2 separate regions of the Homo sapiens genome follow, and region 2 is linked to region 1. A link means that fine-mapping ties the variant in region 1 to the expression of a gene that starts in the linked region. Tissue or cell type: T cells. Region 1 holds a variant in brackets; the other region holds the start of a gene. All regions are shown on one strand. Distances are from middle to middle.

What was found. PIP is the estimated chance that this variant, and not a neighbour inherited with it, causes the effect.
Region 2: NSG1 starts here. The variant in region 1 is fine-mapped to the expression of NSG1 in T cells (TOPMed, PIP above 0.99). The same link has a PIP of 0.9 or more in blood mononuclear cells.

What each region holds. Positions count from the first base shown.
Region 1 is chr4:4,343,074-4,351,253 of GRCh38, reverse strand. No RefSeq gene overlaps it. Among named protein-coding and RNA genes, the nearest start is that of NSG1, 40 kb to the left of the region's middle. The variant T/G (reference allele first, on the strand shown) is at 3,897.
Region 2 is chr4:4,383,762-4,391,941 of GRCh38, reverse strand. It overlaps NSG1 (neuronal vesicle trafficking associated 1), which reads right to left and starts at 4,840. Exons shown (of 5, transcript NM_014392.5): 1 at 4,769-4,840; 2 at 4,184-4,338; 3 at 351-467. The coding sequence starts at 4,312. LOC112268462 (a long non-coding RNA gene) reads right to left here. Exons shown (of 3, transcript XR_007058004.1): 3 at 7,333-7,420.

The DNA.
Region 1 (8,180 bases):
TGTTAAAGTCATACAGGAAGCTTTGTCAAATAAGAAATGGTGTTTAAATTTGTTTGAGTTATATTTGTATAGATACGTTATGAATGTGTGTTCTCAAGTTATGAGATTCCTAACATTCTGATACGTCTATGTTGTCACACATAATTATAGTTATTATGTTAAATTATTGTATGCCACAGAAATAATCAAATTTCCTTGTTAATTACATCTTTAACTATAGCTACCCGAAGTCTTTTGCCATTCATAGACAATTATTGCTCTATTTTGATTCTTCTCAAAAAGTGATTTACAACTGGCTGCAGTTCAAATTTGCTTTTTCTTCAAAGAGATTCATGGAAAAGGACCCTGGCCCTGTACTCTTTTTTTTTTTTGAGACGGAGTCTTGCTCTTTCGCCCAGGCTGGAGTGCAGTGGCCTGATCTCAGCTCACTGCAAGCTCCGCCTCCTGGGTTCACGCCATTCTCCTGCCACAGCCTCCCGAGTAGCTGGAACTACAGGCGCCCGCCACCACGCCCGGCTAATTTTTTCTATTTTTAGTAGAGACGGGGTTTCACCGTGTTAGCTAGGATGGTCTCGATCTCCTGACCTCGTGATCCGCCCGCCTCGGCCTCCCAAAGTGCTGGGATTACAAGTGTGAGCCACCGCGCCCGGCCGGCCCTGTACTCTTGAATACAGGTTTTTGATAACTTCAAAGATCGTATCATTGGACCAAGTAAAAACATTCAGAACTCTAATAAACTAATGCATTCATGAAGATTGCTAACCCAACATCAAGCAAGACAAGAATTAATTACATGGGACTGAACTGATAGAGGACTGAAATGACTTTTATGATTTTTTGCCCAAAACATTGCTGATTCTTTTTATATTTTGATTTCCACAGTCAAGAAAACTTTTCTCTTTTGAACTATTTGTAGCTTATAGAAACTGGATAAAATATACCTTTGTAAACAAAATGGAAACATTTGCCTTTATCTCTACCTGATTTCCCCAAAACTTGGAAAATCTTCATGAGTATTCGTATTTTATGGCAATCAAGTTATTTGCATTAGTTCAGTAAGAATCTGTTTTCTGTCACAGGATACAATTTAAGACAATTTTTTTTTCAAATCAAGATTCTGACTGGAATGACGTATTTTCAGATATGATAACACTGCTTTGAGGAATTGAAATGGACTTTATAGAGCTGATAAAAAGCCTCTTGGCAAAACTGGCCTGCTATCTTGTCTACATAGTTCCCTTTCAAGGTTTCTAATCTTGCAGTAAATAAAGAATGTGTCTTTCTGATATGCCCAGGAACCAAAAGATATTTTGGGGACCTTGGGAAGAGAGAAATTCACCCAATTTGTACAAGTATTACAGGTGCAGTCTAGCGGTGAATCCTTGGTTTGATGTCCTAGCCTTGAGACTTTTAAAAGTCTAATCTGAAATTCCTTCTGAACGTTCCAGCAAAGTCAACTTAAAAGGGTCTATATGGCCAATCACTATTCTTGCTGCACTTTATGCAAATAATCAGGCCAAGTATAATACTAAACTTTGGTAAAAATAGGGACTGGAGAAAAAAGTTAGGCTCCTGAAGAAAGCTATAGAACACCTGTTATTAGATTCCAGCCCCCGACCATTGTTTTTGAGTTCTTTTATTATTTTCCTACAATTTGAACTGAATCCCCAATGGAATAGGCTTTGTTACTATGTATCTCTCAGGGTTTTGCTTCTTCCAAGAAAACCAGAAAATGATATTCTGAAGAGTGGAGATGATTCAACAAGCAACAACAGCATTTATATAAATCAGTGGCTTGAATGAGGACTACCCAGGAATGAGACTTCCCAGCACTGAGGGATGAAGGACATCTATCACTGCCACCTGCACAGAGACTGATCATCAATGCTGCCATGGGAATAATTTTGATCAACAGGGGGGATATGAGAAAAGAAAAATAGCTCAGAGCAGGCTGAGAACTGAGAGATCTGCAGACCCACAGAGACATGGGTATGGAATTCCAGTCATTCCCTGGCCCCCTGTAGCCGGTGCCTACACCTGGGGACAATTGTTTAAAGTTATTTTGTTCCTACCGGTTGGGCGTGGTGGCTCACGCCTGTAATCCCAGTGAGAGGTGAAGCCAGCTGGGCTTCTGGGTTGGGTGGGGACTTGGAGAACTTTTCTGTCTAACTAAAGGATTGTAAACACACCAATCAGCGCTCTGTGTCTAGCTAAAGGTTTGTAAACGCACCAATCAGCGCTCAGTAAAAACGCACCAATCAGCACTCTGTAAAAACGCACCAATCAGCACTCTGTGTCTAGCTAAAGGTTTGTAAACGCACCAATCAGCACTCTGTAAAAACGACCAATCAGCACTCTGTAAAATGGACTAATCAGCAGGATGTGGTCAGGGCCAAATAAGGGAATAAACGCTGGCCACCTGAGCCAGCAGCTGCAAACCGTTGGGGTCCCCTTGCAGGATGTGGAAGCTTTGATCTTTGGCTCTTCACAATAAATCTTGCTGCTGCTCACTCTTTGGGTCCCCACTAGCTTTATTGTAACACTCACTGTGAAGGTCTGTGGCTTCACTCCTGAAGTCAGCGAGACCACAAACCCATCGGGAGGAACAAACAACTCTGGACGCGCCACCTTTAAGAGTTGTAACACTCACTGCTAAGGTCTGCAGCTTCACTCCTGAAGTTAGCGAGACCACGAACCCACTGGAAGAAGAAACTCGGGACACATCTGAACATCTGAAGGAGCAAACTCTGGACACACCATCTTTAAGAACTGTAACACTCACCGCGAGGGTCCGTGGCTTCATTCTTGAAGTCAGCGAGACGAAGAACGCACCAGAAGTAACCAATTCCAGACACACCAGCACTTTGGGAGGCCAAGACCAGCAGATCACAAGGTCAGGAGTTCAAAACCAGCCTGACCAACATGGTGAAACCCCATCTCTACTAAAAATACAAAAATTAGCCGGGCGTGGTGGCGCATGCCTGTAATCCCAGCTACTTAGGAGGCTGAGGCAGGAGAATCGCTTGAACTCAGGAGGTGGAGGTTGTGGCGAGCTGAGATTACACCATTGCACTCCAGCCTGGGCCACAGAACAAGACTCTGTCTCAAAAAACAAAAAAAGAAAAGAAAAAAAAAGTTATTTTGTTCCTGCCTAGCTGCCTCACTCATTATCTTCATGTTCCTGAAATGTGTGATAAAAAGAACAACCTATACCCAATCAAAACTTGTTATTTTACTACACGTTCTTGATAAACAACTCAGGAACTGCCTCTTCTTTTCCTTTAAAAATTTACTTTTAACTGCTGCTAATTGGAGTGTATATTCAGAGCAATTTGAATCTATGCTCCTGGGATGCAATCCTCAAGCTTGGCCCAAATAAACTTTGTACTTAAATGAATGTTGCCTCAGCTTCTTCCTTTTAAGTCAACAGAGGCAGCTGTGTTCCTCACTAGGGGTCTGTTTTCTAGGTAGATAGGGGAGCGTCAGAGAATAGCCTCCTCCAGTGCTTTGAGAGAGACAGAAGGTTGACAGGCAGGAGGAGAGGGATCAGAGAGACCTTGAGGCTGCTTCTTCAGGTCTGCATGGGAAGTGTCATATTGTGGGGAATTGTTTTCTGTGCTCCAACAATAGTATATGACATGGCCCCATATCTGTCCCAGAGAGAGGCCCTTGTCATACTTGGAAATTTTTCTCTTTATGACTCTTGTCATGAGTATCTCAAGTCCTTTTATTCTGCACAATTTTGTACACATTTGTGGTCCCACTGGATATACAATTTTGCATCCCTTCTCACTTAGCATAAGCATTCTTCTAAGTTAGCAAAAACCCTTTTATTTTATCAATGCCTATGGTTAGACATTTAAGCTAGTTTTAATTTGTTTCTGCCACTGTTTTTT[T/G]TTTTTTTTTTCAGATGTTGTAACAGCATCTTTGTATAGAAATTGTGACCACATCTCTGATTATTTCCTTGGGAGAGAGTTTTAGAAGTGGAATCATGGAATCAAATGGAATGGATCTTTTGGCCGCCCCTGGGAAACACTGTCCAATTGCTTCCCGAAAAGAGGCCACAGCAATGTAGGAAAGTGACTGTTCAAGAAACAGTTTCCAGCATTCACAATTACCATTTACAAAAACTTTCACTAATGAAGGCCAAGAAATGGCATCTTACATCAGTTAGTATTTATTTGATCACCAGGGGGTGAAAACATTTGCAGGCATGTTAACTAGTAATATTTTCTTCTGTGGGTTGCCTGTTAATTCTCTTTGCTTCTGACCTTTTATTTATTTTATTATTTCAATAGTTTTTGGGAGTACAGGTGGATTTTGGTTACATCACTGAGTTCTTTAGTGGCGAATTCTGAGATTTTAGTGCACCCATCACCCCAGCAGTGTACACTGTACCCAATATGTTGTCTTTTATCCCTCATCCACCTCCCAACCTCCCCCGATCCCTGCCCCAGCTTTTGACTTCTTAAAAGTACAACAAAAGGCCTGGCGTGATGACTCACGCCTGTAATCCCAGCACTTCGGGAGGCTGAGGCAGGCGGATCACCTGAGGTCGGGAGTTCGAGACCAACCTGGCCAACATGGTGAAACCCCATCTCTACTAAAAATACAAAAATAGCCGGGCATGGTAGTGCATGCCTGTAATCCCAGCTGCTTGGGAGGCTGAGGCACGAGAATTGCTTGAACCCAGGAGGCAGAGGTTGCAGTGAGACGAGATTGCGCCACTGCACTCCAGCCTGGGCAACAGAGCGAATCTCTGTCTCAAAGAAAAGAACAGAGATGCAGAGGCCAGGTGCGACGGCTCATGCCTGTAATGCAGCACTTTCGGAGGCCGAGGCAGGTAGATAGCTTGAGCCCAGGAGTTCGAGACCAGTTTGGACAAAATGGCAAAACCCATCTCTACCAAAATACAAAAATTAGCCAGTCTAATAACCTGGTCTCAAAATAAATAAATAGATTAAATTTTTCAAAAGAAAAAAAGAAAGATGCAGAGACAGACCCAGAGGAAGGAAGGCCATGTGACAACGGAGGCAGAGACTGGAGCGATGCAGCTACAAGCCAAGGTGGGCCAGGACCACCAGAAGTGGGAAGAGAAGAGGAAGGGTCCTGCCTTAAAGTCATCAGAGAGAGGACGGCCCTGCCAACACCTTGACTTTGGACTTCTGGCCTCCAGCACTGGGAGAGAATACATGTCTGCTGCTGAAGGCCACCCAGCTTGGGGTCATTTGTTCTGGAAGCCCCAGGACACTGACACAGGGCTTATGGCTGTCAGGGCAGGCAGGACGGTGTTGGCCAGGTGGCTGAGATGCAGCAGAGCTGGGTACATGTGGGCATCAGGGAGACTGGACTCAACCCCAGCTCTGCCACCCGGAGCTGACTGGCTTTGGATCAGCTATGTAGCCTCTCTGTGCCTCAGTTTCCCTTTCTGTAAGTTGAGGATACTAATAAGTGCCCCGTGAGGCTGCTATAAGAGTTGAAGGAGATGATGCAGCAAACTAACACAGGAACAGAAAAACAAACACCGCATGTTCTCACTCATAAGTGGGAGGTGAACAACGAGAACATGTGGACACAGGGAGGGGAACATCACACACCGGGGCCTGTTGGGGGTGGGGGTTTAGGGGAAGGAGAGCATTAGGAGAAATACCTAATGTAGAAGATGAGTTGATGGGTGCGGCAAACCACCATGGCACATGTATACCTATGTAACAAACCTGCACGTTCTGCACATGTACCCCAGTATAATAAAAAAGTATAATAAAAAAGAAGAAGAAAAAAAAATGGGAGGAGATGATGAATGCCTGCAACACCGGCCTCACACACAGTAGATGCCCAGATATTGTCATTCCTTTTCTTCTCCATTGCCTGGGCCCCAGCCTCATAACAGCCTGGGTTCAAGGCCAACTCTGCCCACCTCAGCTATATGACTCAGCAAATCACAAACCTCTCAAAGCCTCAGTTTCCTCATTTGTAAAAGGGCGCTATTAAGAGATCAAATGAGACATTGCATTCAAAGTCCTTCACCTGTTCCCCAGCTCATAGGAAGATCTCATCTGAAAGTGGTTAAGCAGTCTATGGCCATACCACACTGAACGCACCGGATCTCATTTAAAAGTGGTTAAGCAAGCGGCCAGGCGCGGCGGCTCACACCTGCTTTGGGAGGCCAAGGCAGGCGGATCACGAGATCAGGAGTTAGAGACCAGCCTGATCAACACGGTGAAATCCCGTCTCTACTAAAATTAGCTGGGCTTGGTGGCACGCACCTGTAACCCCAGCTGCTCAGGAGACTGGGGCAGGAGAATTGCTTGAACCCCGGAGGCTGAGGTTGCAGTGAGCTGAGATCGTGCCACTTCACTCCAGCCTGGGCGACAAAGGGAGACTCCATCTCAAAAAAACCAAAAACAGACAAAAAAAGAAAGCGGTTAAGCACATTGAAACTACTATATGTTGAAGGACTATAGACCTGTAACACTTTGCCCTTCAAAGCGGGGTCCATGAACCACGGCATGGGCACTGCCTGGATCCTGGATGGAAGCGCAGAATCTTGGCCCGCCTTAGAGCAGATGAATCAGAGTGTGCCCGTAATGAGACCCCCAGGTGAGCTGTATGCACAGGATTCGGCGTTTCCAACCTCTCACCGCTCTCAGATGCACCCAGGAAAGTGCTTTGATCACAAAGTCTCAGACCTCCACCTAGGACGAGGTAATGTGGATTCACTAGGGACAGAGCCTGGGAAGCTGCGTGCTCAACAAGCTCCCGAGGTGATTCTTCTTACCTGGACGCCTGGGAAACACCTAGCAATGAACCAGCAGGAGGAGGCTGGATAGCCTGGCCAGGAGTTTTGTTGATCATGGTAGCCTGGCCAATTGGGTGGGCATGTGGCCTAGGGAAGGGTTAAAGAGACCAGATGAGAACGCTTGATCCTTGGAGATCAAGGCTGCAGTGAGCCGCGATTGCACCACTGCACTCTAGCCTGGGCAACAGAGTGAGACCCTGTTTCAAAAACAAACAAAAAAAACACACACACAAAAAGCCAGGTGTGGTGGCTTATGCCTGTAATCCCAACACTTTGGGAGGCCGAGGCAGGCGGATTGCCTGAGGTCAGGAATTCGAAACTAGCCTGGCCAACAAGGTGAAACCTCATCTCTACTAAAAATACAAAAAAATTTAGCTGGGCATGGTGGCACGTGCCTGTAATCCCAGCTACTAGGGAGGCTGAGACAGGAGAATCACTTGAACCCAGGAAGCAGAGGTTGCAGTGAGCTGAGATTGTGCCACTGCACTGCAGCCTGGATGACAGAGCGGGACTCTGTCTCAAAAAAAAAGAAAAAGAAAAAAAAAGTACAGTACAGCTAGGAAGCTAGGAGCCACTGATGAGGGCGAAAGTCCTGGAGGGGAAATTCAAGAAAGGATGAAGGACGGTGAACCAATCCAGAGCAAAAGTAGGGCCTGGTGCGGTGGCTCATGCCTGTAATCTCAGCACTTTGGGAGGCTGAGGCAGGTGCATCACTTGAGGCCAGGAGTTCGAGACCAGCCTGGCCTCGTGCCAGGCCTCGTTCAAGCCAGCCTGGTGAAACCCCGTTTCTACAAAAAGTATGACAAATTAGCTGGGCATAGTGGTGCACACCTGTAATCCCAGCTACTTGGGAGGCTGAGGCACACGAATTGCTGGAACTTGGAAGGCAAAGGTTGCAGTGAGCCCAGATCACGCCACTGCACTCCAGCCTGGGGTGACAGAGTGAGACTCTGTCTCAAAAAAAAAAAAAAAAAAAAAAAAAAAAGCAAAAACTGCCGGTTTTGTCTGGATTATACAGTACAGCTGGCCTCACACACAGCAGGCATTTTGTTGATCACGGTCGTCTGGCCAATTGGGAGGGCATGTGGCCTGGGAGAGGGATAAAGAGATCCGGTGGCAAAATGTCCAGCACACAGAGGGAGGAAGAGTAGTTCCCCAGAGATGTGCTGAATGAATGAATTAGCGAGTGAGTAAAGAATGAATGAATGAATGATCAAATGGCAACAGAACCCTAGAAAAGGATGGAAACCTCTCAGGATTCCTCTAAGAGTGTCCTAGCCCCTTGGGGCAACAGTATCTGCACAGCCAAAGCCTGTGCTTCATCTCTCGGCCTGCATTTCCTGCCCAAATTTAGCTAATAGGCATGTGAGTACCTAACACA
Region 2 (8,180 bases), 41 kb before region 1:
TGTTATTGCCTGCTTCCTTCCTGGAACTGTTAAGTAAATATTGTAATGTTTGGTAAGTGATTTTTCATATGTTTATAATCTTTGCCTAAAAGACAGTTTGTGGGTGGGTTTCCCCTGTTATAAAAATAAGTAATATGTGATCATTTTGGAAGAGGAAAAGAAAAAAGAAATGTACAAAAAGCACAAGGACAACATCTTGGCAGGCAGTCACAAGCTACTGGGTGTGCACAGCTGGGATGAGCCCAGACAAACGGCGTCAAACCCTGGCCCTCCCTGCAGGGCATCTATGCAGCTCAGCAGACCCCTTCTGGGGGCAAAAGCAGCATCTCACCCAGCACAGGACCACTCACCTTAAACCTCTCGGTGACACCCTCCGTGATGCTGACGGTGAACTCAGCAATTTGGGGAGGACGTGCTTTCCCTTTCTTGCGGTCAGGTTCATACTCGGTCTTAGTTTTCACGACCACCTTATCCAGGAAACAGAGAAACAAAAGTCAGATGCATTCAGACATATCTGCCCAAAGAGGGTGGGTCTGGGAACTCCCATATTCAAAGTCACCATTTGCCAGGAAGAAATTCACAAGAACGAGAACAGCCACTACTTTTTGGAAATCTCCTCTGTGGCAGGACTTTCAGAGAAATGACCCATTCATAATCCTGATAGCAGTCCCAGGAGGGAAATATTATAACCGAGGGGCACAGAAGTTAAGCTCATTGGCCAAGGTCATGCGGTTTATAGGCGGCAGGGCGGGGATGCAGCCTGGCAGCTGACTCCTAACCCAGTGCTCCTTCCACCCACCAGAGCCAAAGCCTGGCTTGGCCCAGGAAGCTGGGAGGCTGCACCTGCCTTTTCACTGGCCTTGCTGTGCCACCATGGGCACAAGAAGAGGAGGTCTGAGGGTACTGTCCACAGCCCTCCAGGACTGGCTGGAGAAGCTGGCCACCAGCTTGTCTGGAAACAGATCCAGGATCAACCTCTTTGTCTCCACCCCCACATCCTCCTCTCCCCCTGCCCCTGCCACAGCCCCCAAAGGGTCTCCCTGCTCTCATTCCCCTCCACCCCCTACTGTGAAGCAGAACGATGTTTGTCCAACCTGGAAACCAGCCCTTGCATCTGCCCTACACCCCAGCAGCTTCAGATGGACCCAAGAAGCCTCCCAGCCCTGGACACTCACAGCCCTGGCCTCAGCGGCGCTGCCTTCATCACTCACCACACCCGTTGCCAGGGACTGTTTACTTCTCTGTCCCACTGGACTGGGAGGTGTTCAAGAGCAGGGTCAAGGTGTTATAGGTCTCTAATCCCCAAACCCCGCTCCCCAAGCCAGGTTCCAGGAGAGGCTGTTGCACTAGAGACAGCCAGCCACCTCCAAGCTCTTTCTCCCCCGAGGGACGAGGCCCCTTCATTGGGCAGTCCGTCACCTGCTCTCCACGATGGTGGGGACCAGGACAGAACAAAGAGACCCCAGCAACTGGGGATGGTCAGCCCCAGGCGGGCAGCCAGAGGGCCTCTCATCCGGTGCTACGACCCCCAAAGCCAGCCTTGGGGAGAAAGAACAGCGGAGCCCATTCCAGGGTCACTGAAAAATGATCCCAAGAGCCATAAACCTTGTAACCACACTCTTGGCCTCTGACCCCAACTCCTTTTCCACCCAGTGCTCCTGCGGTGGAGAGGGAGGGGTGCCTGGCATGGGTTGGCCTGGGCACCCACCCCTGTGAGGCACTCATTGCTTGAGGCAGTGGTTGGGTGTCACCCTGCCATCCTCAAACCCCGACTGGACCCAACTAGCCATGTGACCTTGAGCACGCAGGCCTAGACTGGCCAATGAATGGGAAATAAGGCTACTGCTGAGGATGAGGAAACCCATGGAAACCTCTCCCGTATGTGGGGGCCCCATCAATATTCTGTCGACCTGGATTCTATCCCCACCTGCCACTAACAGGCTAGGTGACCTTGGGCAATTCTCAAACTCTCCGTGCCTGCATTTCCACATCTGCAAAATGGGGGTAACATGGTAGTGACCTCATGGCATTATCAACACATTAAAAGAATTTAAACCTGTAAAACTGGCAGAATAGTTCCTGGTGCAGAATAAGTGTCTGGCAAATGTCAGGGGAGACCAGCCCTGACTCTGCTGCCAGCACTGTGACTGCTGTCACCGCTGCACCCCAGCACCTCAGCACTCCATACACGTTCTCAGAACAGATTCTCATTTATAACCCAACTGTGTCACCACCCCTCAGAAGCCATGTCACCTGAAACAGGTGACATCGCCTCCCTGAACTCTGACCGTTAGCAACACGTTGCTGTTGTTCAGGTTAAGAGAGGTCTTACGTGAGAGACATCTGGCTCCAAGCACAGTGGAGTAAGAGGCACTGCCAGAAACTTCTGCATCCTGGAGGACTGTAACCTTCAGCCCAGTGACCTTGGGTATGTCCCATAAATGCTCTGAGGCTCAGTTCCCTCATTGTGACCTTAGAAGCCTTCTGGAAAATGATCCCAAGAGCCATAACCCTTGTACCCACACTCAGTCCCGGCGGGAAGTCCGGGATGGAAGGTCTGGCTGGACCCGAGAAGAGCATCCCTGCTGGCTGCCCCGCTTCGGACGCTTGCAGAGAGAGCAGACTCATCACCTTTCCGAGCTGCCTAGGCTACTCCTGGTCGACCTAATTAGTTGGTGAGGATTTCATACCTGCCTGAAACCCTCCTCCCTGTATAAACCAACTGTGCCAAATGGTTCTGGAATGGAACAGACTGAGGACAAGAGAGGAGGCTCAGGCCAAGTGAGGGGAATCACCTGATAGAGGTGCTGCCTCAGGACACGGAGTTCCTGGCACAGGCGCCACTGCTCCTCAGCCGAGCAGCTGGGGGCCCAGGCAGGAGGGGGTGTGGGGGCCTCGGGGCCAGGCCCCGCTAACTGGACGAGTCTGATGCCTAGACAGGGAGGGGTGGAGTGGAAGCTGAGGCCTCAGGCAGCCCTGCCCCTCCTGCAAAGCCTAGCCTGGACCATCAGTGGCCCAGAGTGGCACCACCGTGGCCTGGGGGGCACAGGTGTGGCCGGCTGATCCCCCTTTCTTGAACTGAAACCCCCGCTGCCAGCCTCTTCCCGGCTCCTGCCTCCCTCCCCAGACGACACACACAATAAAGCTGGGAGGACACCTTCACAGGGGTCAGGGCCCCCACCAGGACACCCCCACCCCACAACACCCACCCCGTCAGCAATCACCAACTTGCTGGAACGAAGACAGAGCCCTGGCTCAGAGCCCCTTCACCAGGGACTAAATGAGAAAATAAATAGAAAAGCACTTCCGGGAATTATTCGTGGCTGTGGTGGTTCGTAAGCGGCAGCAAGATGCTGAGAGTAGATGCTGTGTCTATGGTCTTAGATGTGAATTTTACAGTACAATTGCCTAGACATGCAAAGATCTATTTACATTTTTAAGTGTTAACTCTTGGAAATATTATTCTTAGCAAACAGAAACTACTTAATTGGATGCTACATTCAAAAAGAGGAGATTCTTTAAATTCAGCAGAAAACACTTTGGGGAAAGGTTGATGAATGGTTTTTCCCAGTGACACCAATACTGAGCGAGCCCGGGCACTTATTTGGAGATTTCACAAAAGGAACAAAGAGGAAGGAGACCCTGTGTGAGCGCGCACACCCTCCTGCACCTAGCGCCAGCCTGGCAGGGGCAGGCAGAAAGGGCGAGAACAATTCAGCCCTGGGGAGGGGCCATCTGACCAAGGAGAACGCTCCCCCGCCTCGGTGGGGCAAGTCGGGCTGAACTGCCACACCCGGGAAGGTACAGGGGCAGCCTCGCCCGCCCCTAGGCTCACCCCCGATCCAGAGCCCCTGGGGCCACGGGGCAAGGGAGGAGCAGGGCAGCTGCGGGGCCAGGGCCCTCTCGGATGAGGCTCCCAGGAAAAACGCGAAGGAATCTTGCCCCACCGCGTTCCACTGTCAGGACGAGAATATCATCTAAGGCAGGGCTCCCCTCCCCCGCCCAGCATCCCGCGATCCAGAATCCCGCGCGGGTACACTGTCCTCGCCGCGCTCCCTCCGGCCTCCCGAGCCCGCCCCCACTTCGCGTACCCAGCGCACGCGGCGCGTTTCTTTTGTTGCGCCCGCCGTGCGAGATTTGGGGGTGCACACCCGGCAACGTGGAGGGGCGTGGGGGGGCTTACCTTATCCGGGGGCGGGAACTGCAGCTGATTGACATCGAGGGGCGTCATCAGGGGAATGGTGTCGAAGCCATCCTCCAGCAGCGGCTGCTTGGTGCCCTTCTCTGCGAAATTGTTCCCCAACTTCACCATCGTTCCGGGAGCTCCGAGGCTGCAGCCTGCGGCGGGAGGGCCGGGGGGAGTCACCACAAGCAAGACCCGGGGCGGGGCGGGGGGGAAGTGGGCACCCACACCCACCGGCGTCCCGGCGTCCGCGAGCTCCCCGGCCCCGCTTCGTCTCGGGGAGGGCTCGTGGGGACGCGGTGGTCACGGCCCGATGCGGGGGTCGGGTGGTGCTGTGTATTTCTAGACCCTCATCTCGCAGGACCCAAGCGCCGGGCGCAAGGGCGCACCGCGGCCAGGGAAGGGGGCGCCGCCCCTGCCCAGCACCTCCAGACCCGGTCCCCGGTCCTGGGGCCGCCGCACCCGGGCGACCCGCTGTTCACAGCCCCGTCCCGCGTACTCCGGGAGATGGGCATCCCCCGGGCACTGCTCCTGGGCGGGCAAGGTCTGGCCTCGGCAAGCCCAGGCGCGGCCGGCCGCACTCACCCACGCCCGGCTCCGGCAGGTCAGCTGAGCGCTCCGAGCTCCGCGTCTCCTGCTCCTGCTCGCAGCAATGGCGGAGGCGGCGCCGCGCGCGGACCCGGGAAGGGGAGCGAACGATTGGGCTCCACGGCCGCTCCCTCCTCCTCGCGCCGCCGCCTCCCTTCCTGCCTCTCCCGGGGGCTGGGTGCGCGCGGGTGGGTGCGCGCGTGTGGCCGCGCCTCCACCTTGACGCAGCGCCCGCCCGGCCGCACAAAGGAGTGCGGGGCTGGGCGGGAGCCTCCCCTGGGACCACGCGCCCGCCCTGAGCCGGGGGAGGGAACAGGGGAGCGGGAGAGGACGCGCCCCCAGGGGGTCTCGGAGCGGCGGAGGGCGCCCGGAGCGGGAGGGCTGCGGGCTGCGCCACCCCGGGCGGCGGCCTGGGCGCGAGGCGCTTAGAAAGGAGAAAGGGGAGGCGGGGACCGTAGGGACAGAGCGACCCCCAGGGGTGCGGGGAGGTGCAGAGAGGGTCCCCGCCCGCAGCGCGCCGCGCTCACCTGGGGGTCCTGAGGACGTTCAAGGGTTTGGGGGGATGGGTCCAGGAGGCGCTGGGTGGTGGCGGAGACCAGAGCAGGGTGCTCCTTAGTGCTGGGTTGGGGAGGGGGCGACCAAAAGAGGGCGCGTCCGCGTATAAAGGGGGCGCGGCCCGTAAAGGAGGCGCGGCCCGTAAAGGAGGAGGAGGTTTTCGGTGGTGCGGGAGGCGGAGTAGCGCTCTCCCAGGGCTGGGGTGTGGGCGCCCAGGGTGAGGCTGCCCCAGGCAGCGGGAGGGAAGTCGTTCTAGGCAAAGAGCGCTCAGTGCGCCGCTTGGAGGGAGGCGGAAAGGTTCCTCCGCTCTGGTTGGCAGAGAAGGTGGAGGTCCCACTGCAGCCGCCGCCCGAGCATCCTGGGCACAGAGGAGGGGCCGCTGGGACGATGCCCGGACGCGGAGAGAAGGGGGGTGGTTCTAGCCCGACCTGCGCCCCCAAACCCCGAGCTCAGCCGCTGTCGCGGCTTCCCAGAGAGGGTCCTGTTTGCAGACCTCCAACCCGTCCTGCCTGCAGGACTCACGGATGAAAGACTATGGGGTGTGGGGGCGAGGCCGAAATGGGAGTGGAGCCCGCGCGGGAGGAGGCCGGCTGCGGGGATCGGTGCCTCCTGGGCACCTGGGCCAGGAGCTGGGCCCTGTCAGGCGCTGGACGAGGAGGAGGCATCACCCAAATTCGATACTTTTTCACACCCTTTCCGGGGACTTCCCCGCGGCACTACGGAGGGTCCGGGGCGTTTTCCATCAGCCGTCTGAGAATCCTGGGAATAAGCCCAGAGCACAGGAGCAGCCACCGCCTTGAGCCCCAGGCACAGCCTGGGAACTTGCCGCGGGTGCCCTGATTTCAAAATCCCCAGGAGGGCTAGCCGTCTTTGACAGGTGACCTAGTGGGTATCTCGTAACTCGCCCCAACTCTCCAGCCAGGGTCTAAGTGTGCCTTTGACCACAGGCCAGCCTGGTCTGAACCCAGGCTCCTGGCAGAGGCACCCCGCCCCCAACCCAGGGAAAGCGGGTGTCAGACTCTGGCCCCTGCCACGGGCCTCGGGGACCCACAGAACCCACCTTTTTGGCACTTTGATGCCTCCCTGAAGCAGGTGAAGAAGAGAAGATTTCTCTTGCTCCACTTCAGAAATCTGCCCAGGCATCTGCCATGAGAGTGACCCACTGGTCAGGAGAAACCCTTTGGGCTTAAGCAAGGAAATGGCTTTCCCGCACCCCCCCCCGCCCCGCCCCCCGTCTCAGGCTCAAGCATTTAACAGAACCCAACACACACGCGCGCGCGCAAACACACACACACACACACACACACACACACACACACTTGGTCAGAATTCCACACCAGGAGGAACAAAGTGGAGGCCCTGCCCCTCCCTTAGAGACTCTGTCAACTGAGGAGGACAGAAAGGCAAGAAGGACCTAGGTTGTCCCAGAGATGGACGGTGAACAATCATGTTTCTCTGCTAGCTGGCCTTTTGTGCTGTCTTGGGTCTTCACTGGTGCTGGTCATTGGGACTGTTTCATCCTGTGGTTTTCTTCCTCTGCTGATTGTATCTGGGCCCTGTGAAGGGCATGGACAATGCAAAATGCATGAGACACAGCGCCACCCGCAGGGAGCTACGGACAAGGGCAAGTCTTTGCTGGGAGCAGTGGCCCTGTGGGAGAGTGGCCTCTGCCTCTTGCCAGGAGGGAGGACATCCAGAGACTGTGGGTAAAGACTGTGGATAAAGCTTCCTACAGGTGGGCCTGAGAGAGGTGCGTGCAGAGGGGAAGGCATTCCAGGTAGGAGAACAGAATGTGTTAAGACAGTATATGAGCTTCCTGCCACTGTTGGAACAAATTTGGCTTAAAACAATAGAAACATGTTCTCTCCTGGCTTTGGAGGCCAGAAGTCTAAAGTCTAGGTCCCAGCAGGGCCTCACTCCCTCTACAAGCCACAGAGAAGAACCTGTTCTTTCCCCCTCCAGCTTCCAGTGGCTCCAGACATTCTTTGACTGTGGCTGCATCACTCCAATCTCTGCCTTCATGTCACTCCAGTCATATTGCCTCCTCCTCTTCTCTGTGTCTCTTATAAGGACACTCATCATAGGATTTAGGGCCTGCTGGGATAATCCAGGATAAGGTCTCCCTCTCAAAATCCTTAACTTAATCCTATCTTTGCCATATAAGATAATGTTCACTCTTTTACTATGTAAGGTAAATCAGGTTCCCGGGGTTAGCATGTGGACATATCTTTTAAGGGTCGCCATTCAGCTCACTACAGGCATTAAGCTTGCAAGGGTGTGGTGATTTGGAGAACCCAAGTCATTCACAGAGGGTGGCAGAAATTAGGTTGAAGAAGCCACAGCCACCAAAATGGGGATGGCTGAGGCTGCAATGGTGGTTGCAGGTCAAACAGATGTCAGGTATTTTCACAACATACAAAAAGGGAAAATCAATGGGATGCGATCTCCCCCTGGACCAGTTTCATCCCAGCACCAACAATTTAAAATCCAAGTGCCACAGAAGATTGTTGACACATACTCAGTTTTTCTAAATGACTCTTTTTTTTTTTTTTTTTTTGGGACGGAGTCTTGCTCCGTCGCCAGGCTGGAGTGCAGTGCCGTGATCTCAGCTTACTGCAACCTCCGCCTCCCTGGTGCAAGTGATTCTCCTGCCTCAGCTTCCTGAGTAGCTGGGATTACAGGCACGTGCCACCACTCCCAGCTAATTTTTGTATTTTTAGTAGAGACGGAGTTTCACCATATTGGTAAGGATGGTCCTGATCTCCTGACCTCGTGATCCACCTGCTTCAGCCTCCCAAAGTGTTGGAATTACAGGAGTGAGCCACTGCACCTGGCCCTAAATGACTCTTTTAGG